4 linked regions of the Homo sapiens genome follow. The protein of the gene in region 3 purifies or fractionates together with the protein of the main gene of each other region. This does not show direct contact. Each region holds a gene or a part of one and is shown on either strand. Other genes may lie near its edges.

The links.
Region 1: the proteins of TMEM169 (region 3) and ZDHHC18 purify together in Homo sapiens (co-immunoprecipitation; 2 studies listed by BioGRID and IntAct, with this or other methods). This does not show direct contact.
Region 2: the proteins of TMEM169 (region 3) and ST7 purify together in Homo sapiens (co-immunoprecipitation; 2 studies listed by BioGRID and IntAct, with this or other methods). This does not show direct contact.
Region 4: the proteins of TMEM169 (region 3) and NDC1 purify together in Homo sapiens (co-immunoprecipitation; 2 studies listed by BioGRID and IntAct, with this or other methods). This does not show direct contact.

The regions. Positions count from the first base shown.
Region 1 is NC_000001.11:26,853,646-26,859,025, reverse strand, and holds the end of ZDHHC18 (palmitoyltransferase ZDHHC18), read right to left. Parts: intron 5,301-5,380; coding exon 5,183-5,300; 3' UTR 1,422-5,182; downstream 1-1,421. UniProt on the Homo sapiens protein: Palmitoyltransferase that catalyzes the addition of palmitate onto various protein substrates, such as CGAS, HRAS and LCK. Acts as a negative regulator of the cGAS-STING pathway be mediating palmitoylation and inactivation of CGAS.
Region 2 is NC_000007.14:117,134,459-117,139,838, reverse strand, and holds part of ST7 (suppressor of tumorigenicity 7 protein), read right to left. Parts: intron 3,759-5,380; coding exon 3,604-3,758; intron 1,405-3,603; coding exon 1,307-1,404; intron 1-1,306. UniProt on the Homo sapiens protein: May act as a tumor suppressor.
Region 3 is NC_000002.12:216,097,594-216,101,655, reverse strand, and holds part of TMEM169 (transmembrane protein 169), read right to left. Parts: intron 1,737-4,062; coding exon 1,114-1,736; 3' UTR 1-1,113.
Region 4 is NC_000001.11:53,826,959-53,832,338, forward strand, and holds part of NDC1 (nucleoporin NDC1), read right to left. Parts: intron 1,216-5,380; coding exon 1,041-1,215; intron 1-1,040. UniProt on the Homo sapiens protein: Component of the nuclear pore complex (NPC), which plays a key role in de novo assembly and insertion of NPC in the nuclear envelope.

The DNA of each region.
Region 1 (5,380 bases), on a different chromosome or scaffold from region 3:
GCTCAAAGGGGCTTTCCTCATTCTGCCTGCTACCTCCCCACCCTCCTGTACAGCATCCATTCTACCAGCAGGCTCAGGGGCTCTGGCCCCATAGTCAACCAATCCTTCTTAGCTGGTAATAATAGGCTTTGAAGGGTTGTGATGAAGAAAGCAGCAACCATTTGCTCTCTACCTCCACTGAGGACAGAGGACAGGGCTCTGATAGCAGTGGGAGGGACACCAGGTAGATTCTAGAAAGAACTTCCTAAGAAATGTTTCTGTCTTGGAATGATCAAATTAAACAGGTGGCCAGAGGAAGCTCTAGCACCTTTTCCCACTGGCTAGTTGTGAACAAGAGTCCAGTTACCTAGCCAAGAGCTTACTTTACTGGTTACCTTTGGGAAGGGATATTAAATTATTTTAATTATTTTTGTGGCTCCTTGTGGAGCAGGGCGACCCCATAGGCAGTGTGCCCAGAGTAGCTTACATTACTTTTAAGTGATTCGTAGTTCTGATTCTTTTTCTCTTGAAGGCACTGCTGTTTAGAGTATCCCACATCTAAACCAGTCCAGTCTAGAGACAGTGCAGAATTTATGGAGAGAGAATGGAATGAGGTCAGAGTGTGGGACTGCATCCCAGCTCTGTTATAAGGCCTTGGGCAGGTCCCTTCCTGCCTCTGGGCTTCAATTTCTCCATCAGTAAAACAAGGAGGCTGGCCCAGATCAACTCTAAGCCCTCTACTGGCTATGACATTCTCTAATTTTAGGGTTTCTCCAAGATCTCATCCTCCCACCGCTGTATTCATTCCTTGGGTAGTGCAGATGGCTCAGAGCTCGGGGCAGAGATCAGGTTCCGATCTGGGATTTGCTGCTTTGCCAGCTGGGTGACCTTGGGCAGCTCCTGTTTCTTCCTTGAGTCTCAGTTCCCTCATCTGTAAAAAGGCTGACATCATCCTCCTCACAGGTTAAGATGAGAAAATGGGCCCGGGACTCGGCAAGCCCTTGCTGAACGGTAGCGGTAGCTATTTTTTTAGCCCATAGTACAGTGTATGCACATGTGTGTATCTTGATGTAGTGCAGCAACTGGGGAGAGAGAAGTTTCCATGAGATCGTTACCCTGGGCTGGGCTCAGTTCATGGGTATGGCAGTCCCAAACTGGAGTTAAACCCTCTGTCTCAGCCTGCACTGGGACCTATCAGAATCCAGAGGTCAGCTAAGGCTGGGTGGTGTCTGGAATTGAGACCAAGAGTTCTGGAGGGGCAGAGTGAAAAGGATGTCAGCCACTTTTCCTGTGTCCCTCCTGGCTTCGTTGTGCTTGTAAATCTCCAGAGCAGCACTGGCCAGCTGGAAGAAAGCTGGGAGCGAGGGGGAGCCATATGTTCCACACGCCCACTGCAGGTCCCATCCCTGGGCCCCAAAGTAAAGGCGCCACCAGACAGCCAATGGTATGGCAAGAAGAGGGGAATCTTTATTTTGGTTAAAAAAAAAAAAGGTACAGGATAGCAGACAAGCAGCCCCCAGCCCTGGGCTCAGCTGATTTTCCTTGGCTCAGCTCTTTCCTTTAGTCCCCTGAAGTGTATGGGGCTGTGCACGGCTAGCTTGGTCCCTCAGTGCCTAGAGCAAAGGAGGCACGCACCCTCCCTACATCCTACCTACTCTGGTGGAGGGTTGGGGGTGGGAGGTGGACAGGCCGTGGGAACAGTATCAAGCCAGTTGTGCTTAGAACAGTCACCAAACTTGTTCAGCAGCGTCATCCACCATCAACACCCCAGACAGCTCCTGAGGAAACCTGCTGGGCTTGACTATGGCTATGCCTGATCTGAGGGGGTGGAGGGGCAGGCTCTAAGGCCAGATTCCTAGTCTTGACACCTCACAAATCCGGGAAGGGGAAGTCAGTGGAGGAGAGAGGGAGCATATCAGCGTAGAGTCACATTATTGTGCTGATGGCTGCGTTATGGCTTTCTACACTCTGGCCGGCATGGAGCGGGAATGGGGCAAAGAGGCCAGCCCCTGCCCCCTATGGGGGTCCTAGAGAGCACACAGGCCGGGCAGGCTGGGGGGCAGACCCTGTAGGCACAGATGGTGGCAGATGGGCCACAGGTTAGGCAGGTGGAGGTGCCGGGTGCCTGGCTCCCCCCAGGCCATTCCTGGAGAGGCAGAGAGCAGCGGTCCTCAGGAGGTCCTTAAGCCCCCGCACACACTGGAGATCCCCGGCAGGACAGCAAAGAAGGAGAAGAGAGAGGGTTAGCAGGCCTGGGAGGAGGGAGGCGGCCTGCAGGGGCCCCGGTGGTGGGGAGAGGTGCTGCCACAGCACCTGCCTCTGCCCGAGAGAAGGGCCAAGGCTTAGGCAGCAGGCAATGAAGCAGGAGAGAAAACGGGCGGGTGAGAGAAAGCTCAGCGGGGACAGAAAGCCAGGACATAAGAGTGTTAGTGACCGGTGGCCCCTGCATACCAGGACCCCACCAGCACAGACCCAAGCACCTCAGGGCAGGTTCGCCATCCTCTCCCCAGCCTCACCCTCCACCTCCTCTTCCAGCTGGAGAGCTGCTCTGCGAGAAGCTACTTCCTCAGTCCACAATGGGGCTGGGCTTTTAGCCTTGCCCTATATCCCGATCCTTCTGCTTAGCGGGGAGTCCCTGGAGACCCTACCACCACCAGCACACACACCGCACCACACACCAGACAGATGGACGGGCTCCATGGGGTTGGCGAGGCATGCGATGAGGATGAGATGGTGTGTGAGGGGAGCGGGCAGTGCTGGCCGACAGGGAAGAAACGGTCTTACCAGCTAACCCTCTGCAAAGAGGCCTGTTAGCTCCCCTCAGGCTGTGCAGGAGATGGCAAAATCCTGACAGGTGTCCTCCTGAGGGAGATACCAGAGAGGTGGGCCAGTGTTATGAGTTGTCTGGCTGGGCCCTGGTGCCCAGGTTGGAGGTGGTAGCCAGGGAAGCTCCGGCTCTCAAACTGGAATCTACTGTCTCAAACATTTTCTTAGCTGGGCACTCATTGGGGATCGGAGTGGAAAGGCAGTAGGGAAGAAGAATTTGGGGGTCTCCAAGCCCCTGAGGCAGGGGAAGGTGGAGGGGACAAAGAGGGGACAGGATGGCCTCTTTTCACGTGCCCATGGGGGCTCAGCCGCAGCCCTCTCTGCTCTTCCTCCAGCGGACAGAGCTCCAGCCAGGTGAGGGAAAATGTAGCCAGATCACTGGGCTGCCTGCCTTCTCACAGTCTCCCCAGGAAAGAACCAAATTTGTCTGAAAGAACAGAGGGCTCCCAGTTGGGGCCTCAGCAAAGGAAAAGCAAACAAAAACCAAACCAAAGCAAAGCAACTCTTATAAACTGAAGTTTTATTACAAGCAGGAACAAAGAATACTGGCTTAAATAAAAGGTAGGTGGGAGCCCCCTCCTCTAGCCAGCTTCTTCCTCACCTCCCAGGGCCACTGCAGTGATGGCCCAGGGCCCTGAGGCTGGGGTGAAGCTGTTTCTCCCAGAGGGGACCCTCTGTGGCTGCCATTCCCAGCTGTCTGTGACCACTAGCCTCTGGAGTGAGAAGGGCAAGATCTGGGGACTTCCTATGTCACTTTCCAAGGGCTTCAGCCCACTTGAAGGGCCAAGGAGGGGGATGGTGGAACAATATCTATTTTGATAAGAAACTACAGCTCCCAGCAGAGGAGAAACATCCTCTGAGTTTCCGGCCCAGACTCAGGCCAACCTTCACTTGCCTCTTGGCCCACCCTGCACCTTCTTCCTTTTCTCTGGATGGAGGTCCCCGTTTGGCAGAAACACCTTGTCTTCCAGCTCCTGGCACTGGGTCCCATATTCAGAGCTCAGAGGAGGGGGTGTGGCTTGTAGGATGGCAGCCGCTCCCCAGAGCCATCACCCCACCCACCACGCCCAGGCTCAGCCTGTCTGGGCAGGTCCCAGCTGGAAGCCTCACCTGGGGGCTGGTGGGTAGGGCTGGGGGTAGAGTGGCAGAGTCCCCAGACACTGGCTGTCTGAAGTCCATAGAAGAAGGAAAGATAGGAGGCTGGGCTGAGCCCCAGTGGGAGCCCAGGGTTTTCTCGTGACCAGTGCACGTGCCCCCTGTCCCCTTGGCTCAGAGTGCTTCTGACACTCAAAGGGGATGGGGCAGGGGGCAGCCCAGGGGATATGGGAGCCAGCCACATTCATACAGGGCACACATGAACACACACACACATGCACACACACTCTCACTCATTCCAGCCAGAAGGTCTCTTGGAATAAACTTATTAAAACCAACCAGCCTTCTGATAACCCTTCACCTGGCACTACACAGACAGTAATGTGGCTGACATTTTCTCCTTCCATTTAAAAAAGACTATGTAGAAAAGAGGTCTATAAAATTGTGCAAAATACCCAGCATTAATAAACCCGTTTCAAGTATTGCCAGCATGAGCATAACCCACCCATGCCGGGACCTGGCTTGGGAGAGAAGTGGAGGGGCAGGCTGGGATCCCTTAAAGAGCTCTCCATGGGCAGGGGAAGGACCAGGCTCCCACTTCCACTGTGCTGCCCAGGAACTGCACAGGAGCTGAGGCTGTGGGTGCCTGGCTGGCTGATTTACCTTTGTCTGATACAGGCTGCCCCCACCCACCACCAACCCTGCCTTCTCTACTGGAGCCCCAACTCAATCCTATTGGCCAACTCCATAAAAAAGGGGGGAAAACCCCACCAAAAATCCCACAGAATAAAGGGAAATTATCACCAAGGGAATGAAGGAGCCCACAGACCAAAGCAGCCCATGGAGGCTTCCTCTCCACAGCCAGCTATCCAGAGCTGGCCACTCCTCAGTCCTGCTTCACCCTGAGGACCCTGGCTCAGCAAGGCCCAAGCAGTTCCCCCACCTGGGAGGCCTCACGCTCAGTTCACAGCCTCACTCACACAGGGCTCGCCCGGCACAGGCAAGGACTTGGTGTGGTCCCCTGGGTAGCCTCCAGAGGCTCTGGTCTCTCCTGGCACTGATCAGCTGGGGTACCTAGGGCCCAAGGCTGTGGGAACCTGGGTTTGGGGAGCAGAGGGCACAGCCACGGAACAGTTCAGGGAAAGCCACGCAGGATGGGAAATAAATATGAAAAGACTTGAGTCTTTGGCAGTTCTGCTTCCCTTGGATGGAATAGGGAGGGTCCCGGCAGGTGAGTGCGGAGGGTCAGACAGGCCAGCAGGTGGCAAGTACTGAGCCGTGGTCAGGGGTGGCCTCCTACCATGCTGGCATCAGGCTTGGCTCTGCAGGCTGGCTCATCGCTTCTGATGGGTGAGGGCAACACGGTGTCGGACTGCACAAATCCCCTCCGGTCAATTAGGCTTCCAAAACACAAGGGAGACACATGAGGGCTCTGCCCAACACTGAGGCTCTAGGCCAGGGGTTGGACGGCAGAGTCTAT
Region 2 (5,380 bases), on a different chromosome or scaffold from region 3:
GAGAGCAAGTTCATATCTCGGCAGAAATCTCCTTTTCTTAAAATTAGCACTTATACCATATAACATTCTTTGAATTCTTCCTTCAAACAAAATAATTTAATTGAGGGAGATTCTCTTTCCTAGAGAGCATCTATCACCTGCAGTCAAAGAGAAATACTTTATAACCTTCCCTTCTAGTTCCTCTCCTCAGATTTGGGGGCTACACTGTTGCCTAATGGAGTGGCCAAAACCAAAGCATGAGTCTCACTTGGGCCTTCTCACATCATGCTGTAACTTGCAGAAATAACCAGGGGTGAGCGTTGAGTGTTGGTGCTCCCTCCTCCAAAGAGTAACCGGGAATTCACAAGAATAACTGTCTTTCCAGAGACAAACTCAGAAAAGGCTCACCAAGTGTGCAGTCCTAGTGTGCTCAAATCCATGAGCTGAGAATTGAGCAAGATGCCACTTTTATCTTGCCGCTTGGTTCTTTCATTTTTATAATAGGCAGTTATGTATGCCTTCTAATTCAGCAAAAGAATGAAATGTTGACAAAGGTTTTCTGAGATTGTTTTTAAAAAGAAAATAGCCTATAAATACAATTCATACTGGTGTCAGTTTCTTTATGAAAAGTATTTCCTATTAACAAAAAACACGGAAATCCAAGTTCCCCAACTGGTTTCCCTTAAAACCTCTGTTTTGTTTTAAAGTTACATAATAATAACCTCCCTTGGTTCTCTTTTGTTTTAAAACTTCCACCTATTTGCTCTCTTCTTTTGTCTTGACTACTAATAAAGAATCCTGGTTCAAGAATCTAGGAAAATGCTTGAAACAACTACAATAGGATTAACTCATAATATTATTAAATTTGAGAGTAGTAATTTGACCCATAATTAATTCGAATCTTCCTAACAACTACACAGAAAAAAAATCAGTTTGCTAACATGGCTGGTCTCATTATTGGCTTCCAGCTGCAGCCCCAAAGGTTTAATAAGGACATCTATTGACATTTTTAAAATATGCCAGCCACTCTATTAGAAGCTTGTATGTATTATCTCATTTAGTCCTCGAAAAAATTCTAAGAAGTAATTGTGAGGACTGTTATTGTTGTTCCCATTTTAGAGATGAAGAAACTAGGGCAAAGAGAAGCTGAGTAACTTGCCCAACATACATCATTCATCTAGTAAATTGGGAACTAGAGTTGAACCCCACACAGTCTGGCTCCAGAACCCATGGGACCACCACACCATCACTGGTACAGACTGCTATGGCCATTCAGCGGGCTCCTATATCTGTAAGCCACTGATCCCAAACACAAACTCAAACTCACATCTCTCATCATTTTCACTGCTTCCCTGGTCCTCCCGAGTCTTCTGGCACACATTGCTAGCCTTCTTTTGATGTACACCAAGACATTGGTGTCTCGTCCTGAAGAGGGAGATATAAAACACCAACATTTAAAAAAAAAAAAAATACAGAGGCCCATTTGCCTTGCCCCTAAAGGAAATTTTCATAGCACTGACAACTTTGTTAATAGTAGAATGAAGATCAAGTAAAGTAAAAGCACTTAGACTCCCAAAGGTCAAATCATCTGACTAATTACCTAATCCATGCTTTTGAGTGAGGATGTTGAATATTTGATAATAAATAAAATCATCTGCCACAAAGTGCTGCGAAAATGAACATACCCACAGTGTATACGGTTTACAAGCAGGAATTCCACATTCTTCAAGCGTGCATTCTTTTGGTAAAGATGCAGAGGTGAATCTCAGGTTACATCCTGATGAACTATTTTTTTTTCATTCTTGACATTAAGTCTGGAGAAGCCTCATCTTAAACTTCTGCTTTATATTATTCTTTCCCTAACACTAGTGACATCATAATCATCTCCAGGTCCCCTAAGCAGTTGATTTTAGATGGCAATATAACACATTCCAGATATGACAATAGAGTATGCAACAAAATGAAAAACTACCCTAGTGTTAGAGAAAGAATTGACAAGCTAAATAGTTGTAACAACAATCACTAAAATGACTCTTAAAAAGTACGTTAACAATTTCTAATCTTAATCTTTTATTTAATTATATGTCTTGTTGGATATGTTTTCAGACCAATGAGAACATGCATGTGCTTAATCCTCGATAAAAATTACCATGTTTGAGAAAATATGACACACCTGTTATAGATTAAGTACATGTATAATATGCAGCTATTAAAAGATGTTAAGACCAAAGTCCTAACATTTCAAGACTTAAACAATGAGAACAAGATGTGTGCTGAAAATCTGCCAAGTACCTACAAATTATTTTAAAAATGTGATTATATTTTTGGATGGATTTAGGCAACAGGTTGAAAAGATTTAATTTAGAGAAGAAAAGAAAGAAAATTAATGTTGTATTATAGGTTATGTAATTTTATGTATTGATTTCCATTTAGTTCACAAAATACACATTTACTACATGTCTTCAAAATGCACTGCATTACACTAAAATACTTTTTTATTAAAAAGTGAGACATAGATGGTGATTAGAGACTTTATTAGCATATATATGCTGCAGAATAAAAATAAAAACTTAGGAATTGATGTGGTACATGTGAGGACATACTCATGTATATGCAGGCTATAATGCAAAGATTTTGCTGGCACCTTAGTTATGGGGACTAATGCAGTCAGTTTCTACACCAAACCCAAGTTTAACGTTAACATTTAATTTTATAATCTCAAATATGAAGGAGATACATCCCTACTCTCTAAGTTTCAGGAGGGAGAAACTAAGTGAGAAACAAAATAACTTTGTGAATTTTGGTTGGACCATGGAAATACTCTCAAATTTTGGTTGGACCATGGAAATACTTAACTCTCTTACCACAAGGACTGCTAAATTTCTGCTTCAACAACAAACAAACTGATGAGTCGAGGGGCTCAGGGAATTCCAGAAATGATTTCGTTGTTTTGTTTCTATACTGTTCCCCCACGAAATGTCATTGGCTTTCAGTTTAGTATACTGAAGTGAAAGGTCTCAGATTTTAAAGAGTTATCTTAAATTTAAAAAGGCGTTTTTTGGGGAGTTTAAAAAGGCATTATTTTAATATAAAAAAGATAAATAACTAGGAGCTCATGGCTCTTTCTCTCTGGAAGCCAATACCAATGTTTCTTATGTAAGAGATAAATGCTGATACAATCACCAATAACTTATATTCTTAATTGTCCTATTTCAATCCATGTTGTAGAAGATCTATAAGATAAAACCTTTGCTAACACTATGGCTAATTTAAATCCTGTTTCCCATCTGGGTTTTAAAGTTGTGAGCAGAAGCAACTGATGAACAGAAATATGTAAGAACTCAGGAGGAAAAAAGGTTACTATTAAAGGTTACTGCCATTTATTTCTGCGGTTAGGAATCTATGGGCAGGAAAGAGAATGTGAATATAAACAGCAATGAAGCTGTAAGTTAATTATTTACTAACTGCACTTATAGGAAAGAAGAAAATTAATAAAAACAAAGCAAAAGCCAATATTTTCTCTTGTCTAGGAGAATCATATTTTGAACTGGACTAAAAATTTGCTCTGATTAATAATTTTTACAATTCTGATCCCCCAATGCATCAACCTGCAGGAAACCTTACTATGTTGGGCTTCATACTGGGATCCATGATGTTGTAGCTGCTGAGAGCGTCGGTAACAGCCATCTCCAGCCTTCAGGGCCTGCTTAAATAATTTTTCTGCTTCAGCAATGGTTGTTGCTTCCTCTTCAGCCAAGAGAATATAAGCAGTTGCACACCTGTTCATTCAGATAATAGCCACCATCAATTACAAAGCCAAGGACATGGTAATAGACTGTAGGAGCTCATGCAGAAAGGCAAGGAGTTACGCCAAAACATGCAGAGTGGCCAACTGGTTCATGCACTCCTGTTTGTAGTTGCTGACACAAAATAATGGTACAAAAGAAACATCTGTATTTTAGCTTGAGAGGTAGGATGCGTAGTGTTAAGAGCATGGGGCTCACATGTGGACTTCACCCTTTATATTAGTGTGTCACTTTGGGCAAGTTCTTACTCTGCCTCCCTGATGGAGAACAACATGGAATCTTTGTTCACAGTGTTGTTGTGAAGGTTAAGTAAGGTGATGCATGTAAAGTGCTCAGTACAGTAGCCAGCATGTGGTTAAGTGCTCAATAAATGTCAGCTAGTGATGGTGATGATAACAGCTGTTATTAAATAGTTCCTTCCAACACTCAAAGTTAGAGGTGCTATATACAGGTTTACTTCTGTTAACTAAACACAGATTATCTTCAATCTAAGGATTTCTTCAGAATAAGAAATTCGTTAAATCAAGTTACTCACTGAAAAAAAACACAGTGCTTCAACATCTCTTTACAGTTAGCACTGACTTTCTGCTTCAGAGAACACTGGAAGAACCTACAAGTAGTGTTATTTCTGAAGAACTCAAAATCTGACTCAGCCACAGTAGCTAACAAGTTAAATCTCATGCCTTCAACAACAATAGCTACCACTTGTTGCTTAGTATATATTAAGCACTGTACCAGGCACTTAACATATATCATCTCATATAATCTTTTCAACAACCCTCTTAGGTGGGAAGCCAAAAGGATAATTAATGAACATGGGGAGTTCTTGTGAATTTAAACCTTCCAAAGCATATGAGGAACAACCCACTGCCAAAGAAAGGGAATGTAATAGGGAAGTGGTGAGGCTGTAACAGACCACGCAGGTCCTGCACCCATCCTTTCACTCTCCTTCCCCACTGCCTCACTTGTGGCCATTTCCCTACTTATTTCCATCAGACCACAAGAGAGAAAATAAACAGAAAGTAAAACCAAATGTTACTTTTACTGTCCACAAACTGCAATAGCCAGCTAGGAAAAGGAGGCTGAACTTCACAGCTAATGTAAGGGCTGGGGCTACTAGTTAATCTTAGCCTTAGGAAGGGTCTGTAAGGTCTTTAGCCAGTCTCTCTAATTTCAGGCAGGAACCATCAATGGGGCTTTAAACAATGTGGTGAGGTAGGGAGAAAAATGCCCAGAAAAACAGCTATAAAACCAATTTCTACAGATGGCAGCATCCATGACTTGGAAAGAACCATAATGATGCTGAAACTATACAAGTGATTCACTGGAGAAAATAACTGGGACAGGCATCAGAAGAAATGCTTAAGGCTTCAGATGCCAACATATAAATATGAGGCAAGGGTAATGAAGTGAAAATTGAGATTGTAATACTGAGTGGTAGATACAGTATCAGAGGAATTAGCTATAAGATTGTAGTTGTTGGGCTGGGAACCCAAGAATGGTTGGGGCTAGCTTGCTTGCTTTGCTTATTTATATTTCAAATGGTATTCTTAGGAGGAGAGGCAGAGTAGCACTACTGGCCAAGAAACATACAT
Region 3 (4,062 bases):
AATACAAAAATTAGCCGGGTATGGTGGCACGCACCTGTAATCCCAGCTACTGGGGAGGCCAAGGCACAAGAATTGCTTGAACCCAGGAGGCGAAGGTTGCAGTGAGCCGAGATAGTGCCACTGCACTCCAGCCTCGGCAACAGAGTGAGACTCCGTCTCTAAAGCGAAACAAAACAAAACAAAACAAAACCCAAATAACCATTCTTCCTTTTTCTTGCCAATTAGCGTGAACCCAGTATTTAGCTGAGAATATAGCTACCCAGCCAAACAACTACATTTCCAGCCTCTTTTGCTCATGACATCATGTGACTGAGGTCTTGCCAATGAGATATAAGAAGAATCGAGTGGGACTTCTGGGAAGTCTCCTTGAACAGGAAGGGTGTGTGCTTCTCTGCCCTTTCCTCTATTTTATCAGAAACATGGATGTGATGGCTGAAGATGTAATCAGCACTGGGATGTTGGGGATAAGGGTGAGAAGGGTCACATCCTACTAATGGTAGAGAAATAGAAGAAGCCTGGGACCTGGATTACTTCACAGGGTCCCAGGATGGTCTGCCTCCAGACTTCTTCTGCACAAGAAAGAAATACACTTCTATCTTGTTTAAGCCACTGATATTTTAGGGTTTTAATTCTATGCAGCTAAATCTAAATCTAAATGATACACACAAATCTTTACCTTCTGCTACACTGTGGTAGTCCAGCTTCCTAAATGTCTCACTCCATCCCTGTCTATTATCTTGGTGGATTTGGTTACCCCGAGGTTCTTTATTCTCCCTGACACATTTAGTCACATACTCCCCTCAGTTCCAGGCACCAGTAACACTTCCAGGCTCCCAAAACGACACACAGCAGAGTTCCATTGTCCTAAATAAATGGTGATTTTAGGGCAGGGAATCAAAAAGAGTTTGTCCATTGGGTGAACTGCTTTGGCACAATTGCTTGTCTGCTCCATGCCCTCCTGGAACCCTCAAGATGGTAAAACTGATCAGTATGGACTCTGATTTCCCAGAAGAACTGCGGAGAGTAGGGGGTAATTTAAAGAAATAATCTGCTGGAATTTTAAGATGATATATAGGCTACTGGGGCCAGAGGAGGGAGTAAGTTGTTGGGAGTTTAGACCGTGGAGGTTTCTACTTCTTGGATGGGGTCCTTGTTGGAGAGAGTGCTTGAGATATTGTCGGATTCAAGCAACTCCACAATGCTGTAGGGAGAACAGTCCTCCAGACCCAGCTTGCTGCAGAGCCAGCCACAGAAGCCTTTCTCCATGTCCCGGGCAGCTTGCCACCATGCTTCCCAGGACCACGAGAGCTGGACCACAGCAGCGTAGAGGCCGAGGGAAGAAGCCATGGCCATGATGAGCACTGGATAGAAGAGAACGAGGCAAGGGCAATACGAGATCTTGTGCCAGAAGGTCCTTTCCTCATTATACACGAGGAAGATGTTGTACCAGGTGATAGTGCCGTAGTAGAAAGAGACAACAAAAGAAAGGATGAAAACCACAGGCAGGCAGATCAGCGTCCAGAGGACCACATGGGGCCCACGGTCAGCTCCCATCTGGCAGGCCATTCTTCCTTCAGGCGTCGTTTCCCTTGATGACTCTTTAGGTTTGGTCAGTTCCTGCAGCTCTTTCTCTGTCAATGTGACATGGATGTCCACCATCTGACCCTTTTTCTTCCCTCGTGTGATGGTCCCAGTTAAGGTGACGTAGCGGCTGTCCAGAGGCAGGTTCCACATATCTGCAGGGTACAAAGGAGGTGAGAGTCAAGATCAGAAGAGTGGGCATTGCATCTCCATGTTGCACCCTCCCAGGCTGGGCATGAGGACAAGAGTAGCCTTTTTTACACCATCTGGCACAGTCCTGAGTCAGTGATTCAATGGCGGACTGAGTGGGTCTCCCTCGGGAGAGTGACCACTGGTGTTATTGCTCCCACATGAACTCTCAGTCCTTGTGCCTGGGCCCTGATAAAATTGTGAGGCAGGTTAAGCTTTTCACCTACTCTCTCCGCTTTTTGGGGCCTCAATCTTGGCACAATCTCTGTGGCACGGAGGAGTGTGACGAACTTTGATACAGACATGATGCAAATGATGATCCTATTTCTAGGTAACAAGTGCTGTGAAGATACTGGACTGATGGACGGCCACCACCTTCCCTTCTCATGCCTAGTTCTGTGCTTTCTGAGAGGGGGCCCCTCACATGCCTGATCCAGCCCTCACATCCAGGGGCTGCACGCATACACACATGCATCCCACATATACCATACACATACACCCTCTCACATACTACATACACACCATACACACACATACACATGCCACCTCCCAATCACGTACCACATACACACACTACACTATCCCATACACACACCACACACCACACACCATGCACATCACACATACCACATACACACCACATACCCACACCACATATACCAAACACCATACATAACACATACACCACACACATGCCACACACAACCTCCCCACACATACCACATACAACACATACACATACCATATACACACCACATACCCATACATATCACACATACATGCAACATACACACATAACACACCACACACACACATACACATCACACACACCACACATACACACAGCATACATGCACACAAATGCTGCCCCCCACACATTCCACATATATACACTACACATACCCACCCACATGCCGTATGCACACACCACATATATACACATTCTACACACACACCACATACCCATACATACCACACTACACATACCACATACATACCACGCACACATACGTACACCATATACTCCCCCATACCATACCACCCACGCCTATCCACACACACACCACACATTACACACACACACCATACGACACACACAAACAGCGCACACACCCCCACATACACCACACCCACACCGCACACCACACATACACACACACACACACACACAACGCACCCACACAGAACCAAATAGCTATCTGCTGGCCACCCTAGAAGTCTGGGTGGGGATGGGAAAATACAGCCTTTAGGCAGGCATGGACCTTGGGCCCTGTGGACTCCTTGCCCCACAACTGAGAGATAAGATGAAGCCACCTAAAGAGCAGGGCCCTGGATAGTGGCAGGGACTCTGTTTACCCAGAGAAAAGGAATGTGCAGTCTCCCAAGCCCTGTCTTTTCACAGTCTTCATCACAGCAAACACCACCACCATCTATCCTCCCTGTCATTCCAGTCAATCACCCAGGAGTCATTATTGATTCCTCTCTTTCCCTCACTCCCTGCCTCTGATCAATCAGCAAGTTCAGATTGCATCCTGAATCCAGCTTCTCTTCTCCAGCTTTCTCCTGCTATCACCCGAACTTCTCCATTAGTGCTACTGAGGCTGCAGGGACACAATAGTCTCCCATCAGCATCCAGTCTTAACCCTTATAATTCATTCTTTATAGAGAAGCCAGAGTGATCTTTTACAAATATAAACAAGATGATGTCTCTTTGCTTAAAAGTCCTCCATTGACTTCCTCTTGCACTTGAAACAAATATCAAACTCTTTACCGAGACCTGCAAGGGCCACCATGATCCAGCCTCTGCCTACCTTCCTGTCCTCCTCTCACCATCCTCCCTCTTATCTCCTACACTCCCTACACTGAAATAACTCCTTTCCATAAATGGGCCAAAGCTGCTCTCACCTCAGAGGCTTTGCCCTTGCTGTTCCACCTCCTCCAAAAACTCTGCCCTAGAACTTTTCATGGTGGCTCCCTCATGTCATTTGGATCAATTCAAATGTCACCTCCTCAGAGAAGCCTTTCACAACCATGCAGTCTCTCCCCCACCACCTTCCACCCTCCACCAGTACTCATCTTCCCATCAGCATGGTTTTGTCATCTTTAGAACTCATACTACTACCTGAAAGTATCTTTTATTTGTTGACTTGTTCACTATCTGTCTTTCCCTGAAGGTCAACTGCAGGAGAGCAGAGAAATTGCTTATCTTGTTCACTGTGAGCATATGTCTTAGAGATCTATCCATCTACACAAATAGATCTGCCTCATCTCTCTACGGCTGCACAATAATAA
Region 4 (5,380 bases), on a different chromosome or scaffold from region 3:
TGGAACTTCACTGCCACCTCCATTAGGAAGAGAAGTGCAAAAAGGAATTCAAGACTCATCCATGGTGAGCACTTGGGATTTCCTTTTTCATAGTAGTCCTGTACTCACAGTCTTTTATCATTTAATGTTTACCAACAGGACAGTTTTTACCAAAGAAAGCCTATGATATTAAGGGGGAAAAAACAACCTGCCTTATATAATAGTAGCTGGAGGCAAAAAGAAAATCAAGTATTCAGTAGTAATAATGTAACACTGTTTTAAAGTCAGTGGAAAATAGAGAACTTAAGATCACTCCAATCATCTTTGTTTAAAAAAAAAAAAAAAAAAAACAAGGTCTCACTATGCTGCCCAGGCTGGAGTGCAGGAGCTATTCACAGGCATAATCATAGGGCACTGCAGCCTCTAATTCCTGAGCTCAAGGGATCCTCCTGCCTCAGCCTGCCAAGCAGTGGGACTACAGGCACATGCCACCACTCCTGGCTTCCAGTAATCTTTTTTAATTTTTAAAGTCAGAATATCAATTTGCAATTAGTATCAATGCCATGTGTTCAAGAACTATACAAGTTTCAAAATTATAAAAGCACTCTATAAAAAGGCAGTTATAATTTTTAAAAATTTTTCTTCATTCTTTCCATACTACCCTTCCTTCAAACTCCAACCAAATGCTACCTCTTCCAAGAACATGTGTGGATCCCTCTTGTTTTCTGAACCTCCACAGGTTTTGTCTGCACATCTCACTTTCTTCATCCTATTACATCCCTCTGCATCCATGTCTTAATTTCTCTATTGTTCTCAACTCTCAAAGAGCTTATAGTCTATGTTTGAGTCACTCTCATAAATCGCATAGCACCTTGCACATAATAAATTTTTTTAATTGCTGAAATCAATAAACACAAAATATTAAAAACACTTGATATATGCAAAAAGCACCTTTTGCAGAAGTCTGGAAAGCAAAGAATACTCATAGGATTAACCTATATAGGTCACCTTTGGCTTAGTAAGTAAATGAGATTCCTAAGGAAATATATATTTAATATTACCTGTTAGTACCAGTGCAGGGAACCACAAGAAAGCTGTACTGGCCCTGGGTTATCACTGCAGCACACCAGGCCATCACCATTCCCATTGCAGCATGAATAAATGAGTGCATGAGTTGCTGAGGATGAATGATCTTCCCTATCAGAGCTAGTCTGGAGCAAGGAATAGAAGGCACAACTGCAAAGGAAACACATTACTGTGGCTTTATAACCTACAGCATATGCAGTTAGAGGATCTAAACTATCCCCTCTCATCCTTGCACAAATGTTCCAAAGGCAGAGAGAAATCCACAGTCAACGCAAATACAATACAGAAAAATTTAAAGTTAAAAATTCTAAGTTAAAAAAATTTGAGGAAAGCATGAATAAACAGACACAAAAAAACCCAAAGAATCTAGAGATGAAACCTAAGGACAGCATGATCAACATTTTTCATTAAAATTTCCTAATAGTTCCAATAGTGCCTATCCTAGTATTCTCCTAAGCACCATAAAAGAATAATGATTTTTTTTTTCATATATGGACTACTGTAATGGTCTTGCAGTGTGGGAGAGTGACTGGGTTCAGCTCCTGAATACTGACTTTTTATTTATTTATTTATTTATTTTATTTTATTTTATTTTATTTATTTTTGAGACGGAGTTTCGCTCTTGTTGCCCAGGCTGGAGTGCAGTGGCGCAATCTTGGCTCACTGCAACCTCTGCCTCCTGGATTCAAGCGATTCTCCTGCCTCAGCCTCCCAAGTAGCTGGGATTACCGGTGCCTGCCACCATGCCTGGCTAGTTTTTGTATTTTTAGTAGAGATGGGGTTTCACCATGTTGGTCAGGCTGGTCTCAAACTCCTGACCTCAGGTGATCCACCCACCTTGGCCTCCCAAAGTGTTGGGATTACAGGCACGAGCCACCATGCCTGGCCTACTTTTTAAAAAGAACTCCTGCCATCAGCATTTGAAACTGTCAATATATAATCCACTTACGAAAAATAAACCATAAAGTAGGTAAATACTGACAACATAAATGCTAAGATAAATGCTTATATAGGGATTTTTAATACCCTTCAGACAATCCAAAAACATTTTCTGCAAATGAGCTAGGGAGGCAACTATGGGTAGGACATGAGGGATGTTTACCTTTGGAAACAGCTAGCCTAGGGTTCCCTGATCTATCTATGTAGGTATTTTGCTCTTACTATACTCAAAGTAAAGAGATGGCAGGAGGTAGAAAATTAAGTATGAAGGGACAAGTTTCAGGTGCTTTATACTTTGAGGAAGAGGTTCCTATGACCTCTCCCTCCCAACCAGAAATGCCCACAAGGTCCTACTGACTGTGCAACTAACTTATAACACTCTAAATATACCAAACCCTCTCATGTCACTAAGCCTTTTTATATGCTATACCTTCTCTCTAGAACATCATTTTCCTTCTTTGTCTACTTAATTCAACTCATCCTGCAAGGCTTGGTTTAAGGATCATCTCCTCAAGTTCCCCCATGCTGGGGCAAGTGGTGCTCCTATACAAGCTCTTACCATCCAATGTACTGTAATCAAATATGCTTCATGTTTACTGTCTCTCCATTAATCACGATCTCTGGAGAAAGATGGGACCTATCATTTCTCTTTTCTCTCCACACAATGCATGGCATATAGTAAATGCATAAGGGATGGTTACTGAAGGAATGAGCCAAAGTGAATAGTCAGGCTTTAAGAAGGACTGGCTGGGGACCCCTCAACTGACATATTACATACAGAAGATGACCCAAGCATATGGGAGAGTATGAAAGAACACTCTGTTTAAGTGTGGCTGTAAGCCAAGGAGTTTCGAATAGGGCTTGCATGGAAAAAGCTTACTAGTCAATAGTGAGGAATTAAGAAAGCAGGCTGAGTGCAGTGGCTCATGCCTGTAATCCCAGCACTTTGGGAGGCCAAGGTGGGCAGATCATGAGTTCAGGAGTTTGAGACCAGCCTGGCCAATATGGTGAAACCCCACCTCTACTAAAAATACAAAAAATAGACGGGCGAGGTGGCAGGCAACTGTAATCCCAGCTACTCAGGAGGTTGAGGCAGGAGAATCACTTGAACCCGGGAGGCAGAGGCGTCAGCGAGCCAAGACCATACCACTGCACTCCAGCCTGGGCAACAGAGTGAGACTCCATCTCAAAAAAAAAGAAAGAAAGCGAGGCTGGGCCCAGTGGCTCACACCTGTAATCACAGCACTTTGGGAGGTCAAGGCAAGCGGATCACTTGAGGTCGGGAGTTCGAGACCAGCCTGACCAACATGGTGAAACCCCGTCTCTACTAAAAATACAAAAATTAGCCAGGCATGGTGGCATACGCCTGTAATCCCAGCTACTCAGGCGGCTGAGGCAGGAGAATTGCTTGCACCTGGGAGGTGGAGGTTGCAGTGAGCCGAGATCGTGCCACTGCACTCCAGCCTGGGCGACAAAGCTGGACTCCATCTTGGAGACCAAAAACAGAAAGCAAGCAAGGGAAAAGGATACGTATTGTAACATCCAAAGTCAGAATTTGAAATTTTACGCCAGATTTTACAAGGAAGTGTTGAAGAACTAAAAAGGCAAATGATGTAGGCTGGGCGCGGTGGCTCATGCTTGTAATCCCAACACTTTGGAAGGCCGAGGCAGGCCGATCACCTGAGGTCAGGAGTTTGAGACCTGCCTGACCAACATGGAGAAATCCCATCTCTACTAAAAATAGAAAAAATTAGCCAGGTGTGGTGGTGCCTGCCTGTAATCCCAGCTACTCAGGAGGCTGAGGTAGGAGAATCGCTTGAAACCGGGAGGCAGAGGTTGCGGTGAGCCGAGATCACGCCATTGCACTCCAGCCTGGGCAACAAGAGTGAAACTCCGTCTCAAAAAAAAAAAATTCCTCCCGGTCTGAGTATTCTATGATCCTACCGCATCTGTTTCTCTCAAAAAAAATAATAAATAGGCCAAGCATGGTGGCTCATGCCTGTAATTCCAGCACTTTGGAAGGCCAAGGCAGGCCGATCACGAGGTGAGGAGATTGAGACCATCCTGGCTAACATGGTGAAACCCCGTCTCTACTAAAAATACAAAAACAAAATTAGCCAGGCATGGTGGCGGGTGCCTGTAGTCCCAGCTACTTGGGAGGCTGAGGCGGGAGAACGGCGTGAACCTAGGAGGCAGAGCTTGCAGTGAGCCGAAATCGCGCCACTGCACTCCAGCCTGGGCGACAGAGCAAGACTCCGTCTCAAAAATGATAATAATAATAAAATAAATAAATAAACAGAATATTCATATAATCAATGAAATGTAAAATCTAAAACATGACATTATGATAAACTAATTTAAGGTTTAGACATGTTAGCACATATGGAACATGTACATTTAAAAAATTTTTTTTAAGTTTAAAAAAAGGAAAATGGGCTGGGTGCAGTGGCTCACGCCTGTAATCCCAGCACTTGGGAGGCCGAGGGCAGATCACAAGGTCAAGAGATCAAGACCATCCTGGCCAACATGGTGAAACCCCCTCTCTTCTAAAAATACAAAAATTAGCCGGGCGTGGTGGCGCGTGCCTGTAATCCCAGCTACTCCGGAGGCTGAGGCAGGAGAATCACTTGAACCCAGGAGGCAGAGATTGCAGTAAGCTGAGATCGCACCACTGCACTCTAGCCTGGCGACAGAGCGAGACTCTGTCTCAAAAAAAAAAAAGGAAAATGATGTTATAGTAAAAAAATAAGAGTCAGGAAAAGCTTCTTATTGTATCTTTTTTTCCTTATGTGAATCTGCCACAACTTGTATCTTAAAGGCAGTCTCAAGGAATCTGAAAAGGCAGAAAGAATATGAAGAGAAACAGAAAAATTAAAAGCTCTGGAATCCAGCAGGTGATTCTCCAAGGCAAAACATAAGTTTTTTTTTAATCACAGTATTATAGATTATTATATTTGAAAAAAAAACTTAGAAATCACCTGGTCTTCCCTATAAAGGAATTCTTTTCATAATGTATCTGCTAAATCACAGCTTTAATACTAGTTATGAACTATTAAAAGGTCTAAATTTTTTTATTGTGGTAAAATAATAAAATTCACTATTCGAACCATTTTTAAGTACACAGTTCTGCGGCATAAGTACACTCATATTGTTGTATAACCACTACCACCATCCAGCTCCCAAACTTTTCCATCTTCCACAACTCTACCCATTAAACAGCAATTCTCCACTCCCCCTCCCCCAGCGCCTGGTAACCAGCATTCTACTTTCTTTCTCTATGAATTTGAGTACTCCAGATACCTCGTATAAGTAGAATCATATAATATTTGTCCTAAAAAGTCTAAAAATATTTTTAAAACAGAAACTAGCACCCAAA